Regions from separate parts of the Homo sapiens genome. Here region 2 is linked to region 1. Evidence: fine-mapped expression QTL. Tissue or cell type: esophagus mucosa. Region 1 holds a variant in brackets; the other region holds the start of a gene. All regions are shown on one strand. Distances are from middle to middle.

Region 1 (8,260 bases):
GTCAGCAGTGTGCCCCCCTCCCCACTCTAGGAGCCCCGGGCTGTACTTCCCCTCCTTTCCTCTCAATTGCACCCTTAAGAACATTGCTCCTAAATGTTGTACCAGCGGCATTGACTCCACCTGGAAGCTTGTCAGAAAAGTGGAATCTTAGATTTCATCTCAGCACTACTGAATCAGAATGTGTGTGTTAACATAACTCCCAGGTGATCCACATACACATTAAAGTTTGAGAAGTGCTGTTTTAGAAAATATTACGGCAAGGCCCCAATCCACTGCATAACAGAATCCTAGGCACCCCAATATTCATGCCACATTTCCTTTGGTTCTGACCCTCTTTGCTGAAAATTTGCTTTCCTACCTTGGTAAAGGCAGTATTATGAACAAACACAAATTAATAAATATCTGTTGAGTGACTCCTTCTGTGAATAAAAGTAGCCCTTGAAGAGCAACTTCATGATTTGCAAAGTAGTTTCACATGAATCCTCTCATTTTACACTCTCAAATCCTTGGGAGGCTCATGGGGACAGGTATTGCCAACTCCTACTGCAGAAGAGCCAAGCTCAGGGCCCTGGGGAGAGTGGCACAGTCAACCTCCAAGGTGGCACCTCTGATCCCCATCTGGTGGAAACGTCCCAGCTCAACGCAGATCAACCATAGTGTTAAGAGGAAAGGATGGACTACTTTAAAACATTTTTATTAACAGAGTTCATCAGAAATTCCTTTTTTTATGTAAGTCTTCTTATTGGAAACACAAATGAGCTCTACATGCTCTAGCAATAAACAATATATGTCCTTCAATAAAATACGTTTTGAAGATGAACACATTTTTAAAGGTTTTAACAGTTTCTCCTATTGTCCCTGTGTCTTCCATAGCATCTATCAACATAATTTGTCCATAATAGTAAAAAATATTTCATAATTAATGGATGGATGGATAGATGACCAACTGGAGGACTTGGCAGAACACATACTAAACTCTCCCAGCTCCAGTTTCCACTTCTGTAAAATGAGGCTAATATCTACCTATGTCAGGCTTCTATGAGGCTCACATAGCAATGCAAGTGAATATGCTTTGTAAACTGCAAAAGGCCACACACATGCAAGGGATGATAGTATGAACTCCCATCAATCTCACACACAGATACAGTAGGCAGCTATTTGGTAAGAATTCAGGGGGCCTTTGTGCCCCCAACTCACCCAATAAACTCACTGATATCTCATCTGTAAAGTATCATTCCTTAGAGTCTTGGGTCTTTTAAACAAAGAATCGCCTAATTAATGAAACCAGCAGCAGAGGGAGGAGGAGAGAGGGAGGGAGAGAAAGACTGAGACACTGTGTGTGTGTGTGTGTGTGTGTGTGTGTGTGTGTGTGTGTGTGTGTGTCGTGGGACCTGTGTGTGTGTGTGTGTGTGTGTGTGTGTGTGTGTGTGTGTCGTGGGACCAGAGGTGGTGGGGTAGTGTTAAGACTGACTCTTTTATTAATTTACCCAAAGCAGGAATTTGCAGGAATGGGACCTAGGCTTGGAGGCTGAGGAGGGTGGGTGGATGCAATAAGGCCACAAGATAAGGTGGGGAAGAACTGATCTCAGGGGAGACCCCTTGAGGATAGAATGGACAGACGACCCCCTACTGGCTCTTCTCTTCTAACTCTGAAGGCTGGACTTCGATCCAGAGCACATCTCTAGATTCTGTCCCTTTTCAGCGGCTGAGTGAGGAAAAACTTGGAATAGCAACACTTGCAAAGGGTGTGAAATTAATCTGCATTAGTGGGAAGGTTTAGCAATAGCACTCTATCATAGGCAGTGCATTGCTCTGGCAGAGACCTAGACACACTTTGCAGACTGCAAAATCATGTCCTTACAGGGCATCCAATGCTTCCAGCATCACCAGGATTCGCCTACTTCTTTGCTGACCCATGGTGGCATTACCTGGGTTTAATCAGCTGAGTGATCAAGAGCAAATCAGTCATCCTGTCTTGGGTCTTAAGTTTCTTTTCTTTCTTTTCCTTCCTTCTTTTCTTTTCTTTACTTTTCTTTTCCTTCTGACAGAGTCTTGCTCTGTCACCCAGGCTGGAGTGCAGTGGCGCAATCTCAGCTCACTGCAACCTCTGTCTCCCAGGTTCAAGTGATTCTCTTGCCTTAGCCTCCAGAGTAGCTGGGATTACTGGTGTGTGCCATCACACCTGGCTATTTTTTGTATTTTTAGTAGAGACGGGGTTTCACCACGTTGGTCAGGCTGGTCTCAAACTCCTGACCTCAAGTGTCTGCCTGCCTCAGCCTCCCAAAGTGCTGGAATTACAGGCATGGGCCATGGCACCTGGCCTATCACACCTTTTAAAATTAACAATAATTCTTTAATGTCATCAATATCCATTTGGTGTTCATATTTCCCCCATGTGCCTTAACTTTTTTTTACAGTTTGTTCCATCAAATCAAAACCCAAGGAAGGTCACATATTGCAAATGATATGTCTCTTAAGCCTCTTTTAATCTTTAGGTTCTTCTCTCTCTCTCTCTCTCCCTTCCCAGAGCTCCCCTCCATCCCTCCATTTTTCTCTTTTTCTTATACTTCATTTGTCATAAATACCAGGTCTTTTGACCTATACCATTTCTCACTGTCTGGATTTTATTGGCCACTTCCTGATAGTATTGTTTACATGTTCCTCTGCCCCCTGTATTTCCTGTAAATGAGTAGCTGGATCTAGAGGCTTGATCAGATTCAGGTTTGAGTTTCTTGCAAGACTCCTTCATTGGTGGTGCTGTGTGTTCCCATCAGGAGGCGCCTAACGTTGGCTATCTCTCTTTGTGATATTACCAGCTTCTGATGATCAATGCCTAGATCCATTAATTCAACAGGGGGACCCTCACTTTTTAAAAAAATCCTCATCATAATCTATGGCTTGCCTCATGCTGATACCTTTGCCTGGATGGGGCAGCTTGGTTTAGACAAGTGTTCTGAGGACTTTGAGCACCTTAGTGGGATAGAGACTTTCAGAGACATTACTGCCCCTCTTCAAGGGTGGAGATAGGGGTCTCTGCTAGGCCTCAATGGAAACTGCTGGCTGGTTTGGTGGGGTCTTTCCCCTCAGCTTGCATAACAATAATTCCACAGTGGGCCCCTTGGTTTGGCAGCGGGCTTTCGCACAGGCTCCAGGGCACACATACAAAAGCACTAAGCA[C/T]GTGCAGCACCGCTCCTGAGTCATCCAAGGACACAACCCAATGATCCTGTAACTCTGAGAGCCACACCCTCCCTTTCAGCAGCCACAGGTTGTTCTCTGACCTTACACTCTTGGCTTCAGTGCCAAATCAGTGATGACTTATCTTTCCTTTGAAACGTTAATTCCTTCTACTCCCAGAGTTCCTTTGAGATGAAGGTTTTCATGAGCTTTCAAAACACTCTCTTACCTAATCCTCCTAGCACTTAAGTAAGGATGAAAGGTGACTAGCCGAGAGACCCCACTTCCCAAACAGGGAAACTGAGCCCAAAGCTTAACTGATCCACCTGCTGTTGTGCTCTGGCCTCAGGCCCCCACTTCAGGGTGCAAGATTGTGGGTTTGACAAGACAAAGACATGTCTTCTGAGTGAACCCAATACCCATCCTTGAGTGGTGCTCTGTCCTGTGGTCTCAGGGAAGCCAAGAGGCTCTTCTCAGGAGGGGTATCCAGTTAGCTCAGGGCAAGTCATCCTACCTAGATTTTCCCAAAGAGCAGTAATTTCAAACCCTTTGATTCACTTTCAGGCTCTGTGTGTGAGGTTGTGTGTTTGATCAAGGGTTTGGTAAGTTCAGCCACCACAGATACTAGATACAAGAGCAGAAACTTACCTTTCCTTGACCTAAGTCATAGATGCCAGCCCAAGAATATCATGTGCAGTTCCGGAAAGATGTGCAGGTGCTGGAGAAGATGTGGAAAGGGAATGTCTGAAGCAACTCAGAGGGTGGGAGGACAGCCATGTGCCCTCCCAACATAGGAATGGGCTTATACCAATCTGCCCAGAGTCCCTCATGCCTAAGGCCAACAGCAAATACTGGGAAACAGATAGCCAAGGTAGGGGTGGGCAGGGGAGGAAAACAAAAAACTGTCTTGCCCACAAAGGAGAAGAAGTAAACACAAAGACTAGATCTGGGAGAAGAACCAGATTCAAACCACATAAAACTCTGCAACATGGCTGGGCATGGTGGTGCGTGCCTGTAATCCCAGCTACTCAAGAGGCTGAGGTGGGAGGATCACTGGAGACCAGGAGTTCAGGACCAGCCAGGGCAACATAGTGAGATCCTGTCTCTAAAAAGAAAAAAATTTTTTAATTAGCTAGGCGTGTTGGCACACATTTGTAGTCCTAGCTACTTGGGAGGCTGAGGTAGAAAGATCACTTGAGCCCAGAAGTTTAAGGCTGCTGCAGTGACCTATGATCGGATTATTGCAATCCAGCCTGGGTGACAGAGCCAGATCCTGACTCAAAAAAAAAAAAAAAAAACCCCACAAAAAACCCTCTGCAACACGTACAAACCCAGCCAGCTCAGCATGGTTCTCCCTATGGCCTCTCCTGGCATCCCATCACTCCTGAGAGGGTGTCAGGACCAACCCACACTGAGTGGTCTCCGCTCACCACACTGGTCCATCCAGCTTTCCCAGACCAACCTGATCCTTCCGCCACCAAAGCAGCACCTGCCACCAAGATGTGTAGCCACCTGAGTTCTGACACATGTAGCTTTTGCCAATTTAACAAAAAACAGTCAGGAGGCAGAATGTCAGCCTTTACCATCAGAGGCCATAAGCCCCCAGACTGACCAGCCAGGGAGCAAAAATGACTTTTTTCTCCTTATATCATGTCCTGGTCTATACAGTATATGTCAGCCCTTGGCAACCACCAGCTAAGGACGTACAACATCGTCACCTATATTAGACGCTCAAGAGAAGCAAGGAACTCCCCCAACTCCATTCCCACTTCACCAAAGCAGGGCAGAAACAACCAAGAAAGACGTCAGAGATCCCCCAGTATACAATAAAACTTGGCAAACCTCATGGAACCATGGAAATAAAAGGAATTTCTTACCGTCACCTCACTTTATAAATGGGGAAACTGAGGCCTAGCAAAGGAAAGGAACTTGCCCACATCACCTATTCTCCCGGGCAGTGACAGATGCAGGACCAGACAGGTCTCCTGTCAGGTGGCCCCATTCTCTTCCCTTCTCACCCTGCCTCATGTGTCAGACAACTCATCCTTGGTGCCTGCCAGGGGAAGGCCTGGCAGCTGGAGGAGGTGAGGCCAAGTACAGATTACATCAATCTAGCAGGTAGCCAAGAAGGAAGTAGACATTATTCTTCCCTCCCACCCATAGGGAGCCCGACTCCAGGAAGTCACTGAAATGCAGGGAGGCTCAAACCTTAACTCGGAAAAACCTGCATGGGCTGCAGGGGAGAGGATCTAAAGGCAGTGGTGGGCCCACCCTCACTTTACTGTGCTTTTTCACTTTACAAGTGATCTTTCCACCTCAGCCTCCCAAGTAGCTAGGACTACAAATGTGTGCCAACCTCTCCTAGCTAATTGAAAAAAAAATTTTTTTTTTAGAGACGGGGTCTCACTATGTCATCCTGGCTGGTCCTGAACTCCTGGTCTCCAGTGATCCTCCCACCTCAGCCTCTCGAGTAGCTGGGATTACAGGCACGCACCACCATGCCCAGCCAACCTTTCTCATTCCCTTTCACACAACCCTTTCTCACTCTTCTCAAAATGACCTGAAGGTACAGGGTCCCCTCAGCCTGTTTTCTGGCCCCCACTCAGTTTCCAGTTCCCCCCAGTCTTCCTTCCTCTCCCCTATCATGGCAATCTGTCCCCTGCTCACATTTCATCTTAGCTCCAGCCAGAGCTCTCCATCCTCCAAGAGCCAGTAGGAAACCTCTCCTGCCTCCTGATCTCCCAGCCTCAGAGAAAGTCAATGCTGGGAAGGCAGGCACAGGTCCCCTCCTGGAGGGGGACAGGCTTACTCTGCACAGGAGTTTCCCAAAATCCCCTTGGATAGCTCTGTGATGCTTCTCCTAACAGTTACCTGATGCCTGCAGTTTGTTTAACTATAAAATTCTGCATAAGGGACTGAGAGTCCGACTTTTTTGGCACATCAAATAGCTTGGAGCATACAACTATGTTTGCTGTGTGCCATTTAGCACTAAATGTCAAGACGATACAGTCCAAATGTTCATCATCTAGTGAATAGATGAACAAAAGGTGGTGTAGCCATACAACTGGATATTATTTGGCAATTAAAAGGAAAAAAGTACTGATCCATGCTATATCATGGATGGACCTTGAAAATACTATGCTAAGTGAAAGAAGCCAGTCACAAAGGACCGCATGTTGTATGATTGCACTTTTACAAAATGTCTAGAACAGGCAAATCCACAGACAGAAGGAAGATTAGTGGTTGCCTAGGGCTAGTGGGTTTGGGAGAAGCAGAGAGTGACTGCTAATGGGTAAGGGGGTTTTTTGGTAATGAAATGTTCTAAAATTGATGATGATGATGGTCACACAACTCTGAATACATTAAAGCCATTTAATGGCTTTAATACACTATATGCGAATGTACTAATGGCTTTAGGACACTATAAATGGGTGAATTGTATATAAATTATATCTGTTTTTTTAAAAAAGAACCATAAAAATACTCACATGCTTTCACCAGGTGATATCAACTCTACCCTATATGCAGGTTCTTTATGAAGCACTTTTCATATATTGGCCTCAGACAGTATCTCAACACCCTGCACAGTCAGTGCTCTCCCCATTATAGAGATCAGGAAGTTGAGACTCACAGAGTTACAGTCACAGAGCCAATTTGCCACAGATCTAGAACTTAAAGTCAGATTATCTGAGTCCAGGTGCATTGTATTCTGGGAATTTGGCCTCTAGAGAGACTTCAAATGAAAGAACATAGTTTCATAGACAAGAAAAAGCTGGAAACAAGCTAAGCATTCTCCACTAAGGAACAGCTTTGGCAATCAGATGTTCTGGATGCAATAGACAATTATATAAACATTAAAATAGCAAGTATGAACATCATAAGGGACATGTTTATAAAATAATAAGTGAACATGCACAAATGATATGTATGGTTTGATTCAATTTTTGTATTAGAGAACACAGATGCAAAAGTGCATGAGGATAACAAATAGTTGAGTGAAACTTTTCCTTTTAAAATTTCCTGTGTTTTAAAAGTAAGAAAATGAGAAGAAACACCTGCATAGACATCCCTAACCAACAGAGCAGTGCACTGCTGTCATCCAATCAAGGGTGTACTTGAGGGACAGGCCACAGAGCTGCAGCATCACCAAGGGCCTTACAGATGACAGGGGAGGAAAGGGTAGGATCCCCTTTTCAGTCTGCAAACATAAGACCTCTTTGTTTAAAGGAGGCATAGGAAAGTTGGCCAGAATTTATTGTCACAGCTGATCCTTCCCTCAAGGTGTCCTGGACATGAGGCCCTCCTCTATTTTCACCTCCTGTGCATACCTCCATCATGGGATTCAGCCCATTTTACTGAAATTCTCTATATATTATTCTCCCTTAGTAGACTGTAATTGTCCAGCCTTGTACCCCCAGGCACCAACTACAGTGGATACACAGTAGATCTGCAGTGCATGTTTTCTGAATGGACTTGGGCTAGTATCTCTTCATTACCTGCCATCCTCCTGAGCTAGACTTTTACAGACCAACACTTAGTACAGCTTCCTGATCAGTGTTGCTGTCTTCAGCCCTCCACCCACACACCCAATCCACACCCCACATTCCCCAGTATATTGTCCTACAACGCAGACATCATCATGTTCTCTGCTCAAGATTATTTTCTCCTTCCCATCAAGCCTGAGCTCCTTGGCCAGGCCCCAGGGGCCTTTCACCACCTAGCCTCATTCTACTTGCCCAAATGTACTCTGCTTCCCAGCAGACACACCCCAACACACTCATTTCCACCTCTGGGTTTCTGCTAGCCCTATTTGCCTAAACTAGGAGGTCGTCTGCCTACCCAAATGCTACTCCTGTTTTAAGTTCAAGTTCCAGCTCCTCCTGGAAGTCTTCCCTGACCATGCCACCCCCCAGGAATCCTCACCTTGGAATATGTTAGCTCCTAAAGTTCAGTACACTTAATTGTCTCTTTATGCTCATTTCTTTACTGTGTTTGCCTTTCCCCCCGCCCCTAAATTAGGTTAATCTGTTAAGGGCAGGGCAATGTCTTACACTTCATCTGTGTGACCCACCACACCCACTGTAAG
Region 2 (8,000 bases), 41 kb after region 1:
CTAGTGTTGGTGAGTATGTGCGGCAACTAGAGCTCTCAAACACTGCTGGGAGGGGTATACACTGGGACCACCACTTTGGAAAACTGTTCAGCAATTTCTTTGGACATATCTAAGAGAAATGCATGCAGATGTTTTCCCAAATGATCCACGTTAGAATGGTCACTGCAATACTATTAGTAATAACTAAAAATTGGAAACAACCAAATGGTTATCAATAGAAGACTGGATAAACAAATTGAGGTACTATATACCCATACAATGGAATCATTATACAGCAATAAGAATTAACAAACTACTGCTACCTGCAACAACATGGATGAATCTCAGAAACATAATGTTGAATGAAAGTAGACAGACACAAAAGACTGCATACTGTGTGATCCCATTTAGGTAAAATTAATGCATGGTGCTAGATGTCAGCAGAGTGGCTATCCCCTCACTCAGGGGAGAGTTGGAAGGGGAGCTTCGGAGGCTTCAGAGTGCCAGCAATGTTGTTTCCTGATCTGGGTGGTAGTTAGATGGATATATGGGATGATTTTGTATGTGATCAAAATTTTACATAATTTTTTAAAATGAGACTAATGTGAGACAAATGAGATAACCCATGTGTAATGTTTTAAACGGTCCATGGATAACGTGAATTCCTTCCCTCCTCTTTGTGACTTGGAGCCCCATAAGGGCAAGAATTGTGACATTCCTACCTCTGTCCCCTTGTCGTAGGCTAGTACACAGTAGGCACTATATAAGTGTTGGCTGATTTTAACTTAGTTCCCCAGCCTCCTTTCTCAAGGCCGCTACTCAGATGCTCATCAGGTAAAACAACTGATAGCCACTTCAAGCACTTTCCTAACACCTCTCCTAAGGCGAATTTGCATTTTACCAGTTTAGAAACAAACTAAAGGGGTGAAACTGAAGTGGAATTATAGTCACCAGCTAGGACCCAGATAAGGAGCCAGAGGCACAAGGACCTTTCCAGCCTCGAAAAGCTGAAATCACATGGCAGAGGGAAGGGACACAGTTACAACTTTTGGCCAGAAGCACAGGCCATCAGCTCCAGATGCTCCCAGGATGATACCCACCTTAATGCCCATGTTTCTCCTGATGGAGTCCTTGGAATTCAAATTCCTGCCTACAACTCTAATACCAGGCAACACTTCAGGGGGCTACCACAGATTTCCTAGAACCCCATAGATCATCTATTTAGGGATTTTTAGAACTGCTTCAGGATCACCAGGGTGAGAAGGGGAAGCCAGAGCAGTTCCACGTTATCCATACTATATGTTGGCGTTCTGGGTAAGAATTCACTGTGAAACAGAAGTTTGAAAACCACTGCTGTCTGGTCTAACCCACTTGTTTTTACAAGAGGAAGCTGAGATCCAGAAAGGGGAAGGGACTCACTGAGCATCATACAGGTGACCCATCCCGCTCCTCTTCCCAGGGCTTCTTCTGTTGATAGCCACCCCAACTCCTCCAAGATGTCACCAGGGTTGGCAAAGTCAGTGGCCTCCTGAGGGACAAGCTAGGAGGAGGTGTCTAGGGCTGGAAGATCACCTCATAGGAAACTCTCAACACTCAAGAAGCCCTCTCCACCACTGGCCCAGCTCACTCTGCAAAGTGAACTCTCTCAGTTCCTCATCCCACCTCACCAAGTGCAAGTGAGTGAAACGGGACCACAGCAAGAGGGCAGGCAATGGTTGGGCAAAACACACACGACCGTCTCATTACACACACCCCCATTAGGAATCATCACACTCAGGCTCTGGAGAGGCTGCCAACAGAAGGGATGGGGCTCCGGCATTACAGAGCTCCTCTCTACATTCCAGGCTTTGACCCATCACAGTCTCCAATGAGGAAGCTGGGGCCCACAGAAGGTCAGCCACCTGCCTGAGTTGACACAAGAAAAACTTGGTCTCTCTGGCAAAGATCCAGCTCCCTTGGGAAGCCTGCTTGTTCACCCCACAGCTAACAAATCGGGAGGCCTCAAGGAGGTGGGCAGGGTCAGTGCGGGTCTCATTCCTGCCAGCCAGGAACTTACCCCAGAGGAGCAGACCTCCAGCCACATCCACACACCCCTGACCCCTCTGCCCAAGTCTCCTCTGAAGGTGCTGAATCATCAGTGGTGCCACTTGAGGGTGCTCAAAAAACATCTTGGGAGATGAGCGGTTTGGGGAAGGACAGGGCTGTGAAGTTAGCTGTGAAGAGGCCAAGGCACCACGGCCTCTTAGGTCAACAGGACTCTCCCAGGAATATCTTCCACAGAGGCAGTTGGGAGTCGCAGTGTCAGAAACCAGAGTGGCTGCCCTCCACAGGATTCCAGGATACAAGATGTCAGGCGCTGTCCCTGCACCTGCCCGCTTGCCCCCGAGGCAGCCAGCTATGGTGCCCTCTCCTCCAGTGTGCACCACTGCCTTACCATTACCTGCACGGCCTCAACGAGGCTCACCTCTCTGGACCTTGTTTTCTCTTTTGTAAAGTAAGAATACCAATTTCCACCGTGCAGAGTTACGGTGAGGGTTAGCCAGACCTATGCAAGCCTTGGGACCTCCAAAATGCCTAGCCCAGAGTCCTAGTCAACTGTTGGCAACGCCCTTCCAAGCCGTTCCACCCCAACCTGCAGCACACCTGCTGGCCGCCCCCACGCCCATCCTAGCTCTACCCCAGGCCGGGGCGCCTGACGGCGGGGACCCCAGCTTCATTCAGCCCCAGAGGAAGCTCAGACATCTGAGCACCCTCCTCGCATCACATCCTTGTGCCAGGCGGGAGCAAGAGGTGAGAGAGTCAGCCCAAGCTGAGAAGACTTGGCCGGGAGCCGGGCGTGCTCTGCCCGTTCCAGGGGGCCTAACTCGATGGACGTCTGTCTCCCATCTCCCTGCTGGGTGCTTGGCTCTGCCCGCCGCCTCTACCCTGTCTCCCAGGTCAAAGTGCCAGGCTCCGGAGGGCGCCCCAGGGCAGCGGCGGGCAGCTCCCGCGCTCGGGTGCCGGCCACAATGCCCCGGGCCACGGCGTCAGGCATTGGGGCGGCGGGCCCGGGATCTGCGAGCGAGTGCCCCGGATCTCTTCGCCCCGCCAGCCCCAGACCCGGGCGCTGCTGCCGTCAGGCCGCGCGCCCCGTCCCGCCCATCGAGCCCGCAGACGGGTGCTACTCACGGCGGGAGGCTGAGCTGCCGCGGTCGCGGCCGCGGCAGGCGCGGCGGGAGCGGCGGGCGCGGCGGGCGCGGCGGGCGCGGCGGGCGCGGCGGGAACGGGGGACGCGGCGGGGTGCGCTGGGCTCGGCCCTGCAGTCCTCTCCTCCCAGAGCGCCCGGCACCCGCCCGCCGAGCAGCCTAGGAGCCGAGGGGGCGGAGCGGCCAGCCCCGTCCCAGGCGCCGGCTGGAGGCGCGCCCGGCTGCCCGGGACGGGGCTCGGGGCGCCCCCTGCTGGAGCCCCCTCCGGACAGTCCCGGGGCGAGAGCCCAGCTTCCCGGCCGGGTAGGGGACACCTCAGGGCTCCCAGACTCCCGGGAGAGCGGGGAGAGTCGGTAGCAAGACCCTCTGCGCGTCCCTACCGGCTCTACCGCGCACATGCTGCGTGGCCTTGGGCAAGTCGGCTACCCTCCCCCGGCCTTATCTGGAAATCGATTTGAATGAGCTTATACGTATGACATGGTCTGGCACAATCCTCAGAAAATGGTACTTGTGTGCTCCTCTCCCCACCATACACACCGTGAGCGAGGAAGCCCCACTGAGGAATAGGCCGTCTCCTCCCTCCCAGCCAGAGCGCTCCCTACACCGCAGACTCTCCTGGAAACCTCAAGCCCACAGCGTACAGCAAGGTGGGGGCTGCGATGAGAAGGGCCGCTCTGCTCCTCACTGCCCCCGACCCAGCCTGAGAGCGGCCTGCCCTCGTTTGCCCTTTGTCCTGGCACGGTTGCTGAGTGAAGCCCCCCTCTCACCATCACGCCTTCTCTAATAGAGGACTTGGGAATGGGTTCCTCTCTCTGCCCTCTGCCAAAAAATCCCTGAGGAAAAAAGGAATGAGAGTGAGGGGGTGAAGGGAGGAAGGAAGGGAAAACAGAACTTAAGCCAAGTTCATTTGTCTTATTTCAAAACAAGAGGCTGTTTAGAGGAAGCAAATGAGGACCCCTCCAACCCCTGGAATTTCCATCCCTAAGTCACCCATGGGGCTCCTCAAAAGGGCCTTAGATTCAGAGTCCTACCACCAGGTTCAAAGCCCTGCCCTGCCACTCCGCATGTGTGTTCTTGGGCATGGCTCTTTCTTCATCAGTAAAGTGGGAGAAACGCACCTTCCGGTAGCTCCTAATGAAGCTATGGTGGGGCTGAGATGAGATGGAGTGTGTAAGATGCACCTAGAGGACCTCTACCAGTGTGAGCACACACACACCCTTCAGCCTTTTGGACATTGGGACAAATACAGATGGACCCCACCCCCCAGCTGAGCAGTGCCTCCGGGTCCAGGACATCCTCGGCAAAGAGTTCCTTGTTTATAAACTTCACAATAATTCAGAACAGTGCAGCCAGCGAGCCTCCTCTCCTAAGAGCAGCATGATATATAGAGTAATATCCAAGACTAGAGGTGGTTTCTGATGTCAACGGACCTAAGGGAATGACACCCACTGGTGAAGTTTCACCAACATGAGAAGTCCCCCACCAAACTATCCCTAAACACCTCTTCCTCCATTTCCATTTACCTATCACTGGTGACAAACCATTACCAGCCTTGGTGGCACAGGACAACAGTTTCACTATGTTCATGCATTCTGAGGGACAGAAGTTCAGACAGCACAGTGTGTATGGCTTATTTCTGCTCTGCAGTGTCTGGGATTTCAACTGGGAACACCTGAATAGCTGGGGGCTGAAATCATCTGGAGATTTCTCCATTCTCATACCCAGTACCTGGGCTGTGATGAATCCAAGGCTGGGCTCAGCTGACCCTGCTGATCACCTACATGTGGCCTCTCCATCTCTTTCCCTTGAGCCTCATGCTTAATACCTCATTGTCAGCAGCAGCAGCCCCTTACATGAGTCAAAAGAGACATTCTTGGGTTTAGCAATTGACAAGTTAGTCAGAGTCCATTGCAGCTGGAAGGGTCATTGTCAATTGACCCTGGCCACTTTTCAGATGAGGAAACTGAGGCTCGGAGAAGGGAGGTGACTTGCCCAACATCACATAGCTGGTGAGAGACAGAGCTAGGATTAGAACCAGGCCTCCTCCAGATTCAGTCTGGTGCCCCTTCCACTGTACCTGCCAGAATGCAACTATCTAGGAAGCTACCATCTGGAGATGCATCTTATGCTTAAGGTTGGGTGAGTTCATCAGACCCTCACCTGAGGGCAGCGACAGGGCACTGAACACAGGACCAAGGTGGCCATCAGCAGAAAAGGGGAGGCCCCGAGGACAGTGGCAATGAAGACACAAATTCCAGAATGAAGCCAGAGGCAGTCCAGGTATTAAGAGCTAAGAATTATCCAACTCAGTTCCAGTCCCTGCATGGTTCCCATGGCTGACCAAATCGAGTGTTAATGCCTCACCCTAGCATTTAAGGCCCCAACCCTTATTTTCCTGCTGTGTATGCACATTCCCTTCCCTCCTCTGCATGCACATCCAGCTCTTTTGCCAGGTTGGATTATTGGCTGTTCCTGCCTCCATGCTTTTGTTCGTTTCCACTACCCTTCATCCCATTCTACAAAATCTTATCTATCCTCTAAGAGCCTTCTAAAGTATCATGTCTTCCACAGAAACTTCCCTGGTCTGCCCTCTAAATACCTCTCTCCTTTGAACCTCACCACTCTTGGTTGGTACATCTCTTGTCATCTTCCTTCCTCTATTTTAATTAGTGTCTACTTCTCCTTTTCTCAAGGGCAAGTACAATTTCTTGTCCATCTTTGAACCCATACAGTGCTTGATATCCCAAACCCAGTAAAGGTTTCTTAAACTGAATTAAGGAAGGTAAATATCACAAGGGGCCATAGCTGTCTTGTTTTCTATTGTCCCCTAAGAGCACCCAAGCACCTGGCACTTAGTAGATGCTCAATAATCTTACTTCAAGTGCTTCACTTCTAGGGGGATGTCATTATCCTCTTTTACAGATGATGTAACTGAGGCTTGAGAAATTTGATTTGCTCAAACTCATCCAATTTGTAAGTGGCTGAGCTGTGACATGAATCTTGCCTACTGGTCTCTGAAGCTATTCCCTCTGCTGCCTTCCCTCAACTGAAACTTCCAAGATTTCTAAAACAGTGTTAATCTGGAACTTTTCAGTCCAGGCAGTACATCAGAATAACTGAGAATAACATGGGGTGCTTAAAATCCCCCATGCTTAGACTGCACCCTACATCAATTACATCAGAACCTCTGAGGATGAGTTCTGGGTATCAGTTTTTGTTAAACTCCCCAGGTGATTCCCAGTGCACAGGTTGAGACCCAGTCTGTTCATGTCACAGAGACCTAGGGAAATTCTCAACCCCCTCAATGACAAACACATCTGAGTACCTGCTTTGTAAAAGACATTCCAAGGGACTGTGAGATGGTAGAGTCACAGGACCTGTGCTTCCCAGGGATGAGAATACAAGCCCATAGATAAAGATGTAACCATGGCAGGCAGCAAAGGGCACTAGTCATGGTGATATCCTAAAGCATACTTTGGTGCCTGGCAAGTTTACAGAGCCTAAAAACCTCCTGACAAGGGGGCAAGGTGGGGATTAAGATGCTGCATGTTGGCCATGGCAGATGGCACCTGGGTTGGCTTACAGCATGTGTAGTGTGACGGCTAAATGCAGAGACTCTGATGCCAGACTGCCTGGGCCCACACTCAGGCATCCCAGCATGCAACTTACGTGCCATGTGGTCTGGGGCAGGCTATTTGATCTCTCTGTGCCTCATTATCCCCATAGGTCAAATGGAGCTTATAGTAGCATTTATCTCTTGGGTTGTTGTGAGCATGCAGTTACTTTTCAATTCGATCAGTGTCTGGCACTTGGTAAAGTCCGCAATGATTATTAACTGTTATTATTATTCCCTAAATGTCTGGCAATAAGCTCCCCTGGGGAGGAAATGGATCTTATTCATCTCTGCGCCCCATCCCACCCCTAGCCTGGCCCAGAGAATTGCCAAATGCAGTCTGAAATGCAGTCTTCTTGACAACGGGTCAAGTCCTGACTCTCAGGCTCTCGGCCAAGGGAGTGCACAGGTGATTCCTCCCCAGAGGGCTTGCCTACTGGATGGAAGGCCGGCAGGAAGCTGCTTCTTCCCAAACTGACCTGGTGGCCTGGCTTCTCAGCCCTTCCCAGCCATGCCCACTCTGCCCTGTGCCATCTGCCCTCCTAGATGGGAGGTGTGGAGCAGGCTTGGTTTGGCAACCTTTCCTGCTACCCCCCCCACCCCCGGGGGCACTGGTTCTTGCAGCCAGAGGCAGCTGCTTCAGCCTCTAGCCTTGCTGGACTCAGCACCACAGGGATGGGGCAGGGAAGGGGAGGAGAGAAGGGAGGAAGGAGCTGGGGGATGGGAGGCCTTGCCTCTCTCTAGAGAACCTGGGGGATGGGGATTTCCTGGACATGTGTACACACTCTTTTACTCCGCAAACATTCAATAGTACCTCCTGGGGTTATGTGCTGGAGTAGGGGCAAATAAAGACCCAATGCCATAAAAGGTCAGATCTACTCCAGAAGGAGCCTCCAGAGAAAAGGAAAGCTTGATTCAAACTTGAAAGAAGAGTAGGGATCACCGGGAGAACAGAAAAGTCCACAGTGGGGCAAGGGAGGCAGGGCACATGGGGTGTGAGCAGCTGTGCATGTAAAGGGCTGCAGGTATGAAACCACTTGTCATTCACCGCCCCTATTTCCACCTGAGCCAGCACAGGGCCTACGCTATGGGATCATGACCCATGCATATGCCATTGCCTTCTATTCAGGACAGAGGCTGGTGACACATTGTGTGGCCAGGACCCCTCAAACTATACCCACCTTTAGGGCTACAACATCCAACCACCTTCTTCTTTAGGCTCG

What was found. PIP is the estimated chance that this variant, and not a neighbour inherited with it, causes the effect.
Region 2: DAPK2 starts here. The variant in region 1 is fine-mapped to the expression of DAPK2 in esophagus mucosa (GTEx, PIP 0.93).

Annotation. Positions count from the first base shown.
Region 1 is chr15:64,001,583-64,009,842 of GRCh38, forward strand. The region is part of intron 2 of DAPK2 (death associated protein kinase 2); the gene reads right to left. Among named protein-coding and RNA genes, the nearest start is that of DAPK2, 41 kb to the right of the region's middle. RefSeq lists a silencer at 8,180-8,239. The variant C/T (reference allele first, on the strand shown) is at 3,178.
Region 2 is chr15:64,043,151-64,051,150 of GRCh38, forward strand. DAPK2 (death associated protein kinase 2) reads right to left here and starts at 3,335. Exons shown (of 12, transcript NM_014326.5): 1 at 3,148-3,335. RefSeq lists enhancers at 1,619-1,668, 1,719-1,768, 7,309-7,855 and silencers at 2,969-3,188, 3,219-3,278, 3,299-3,508.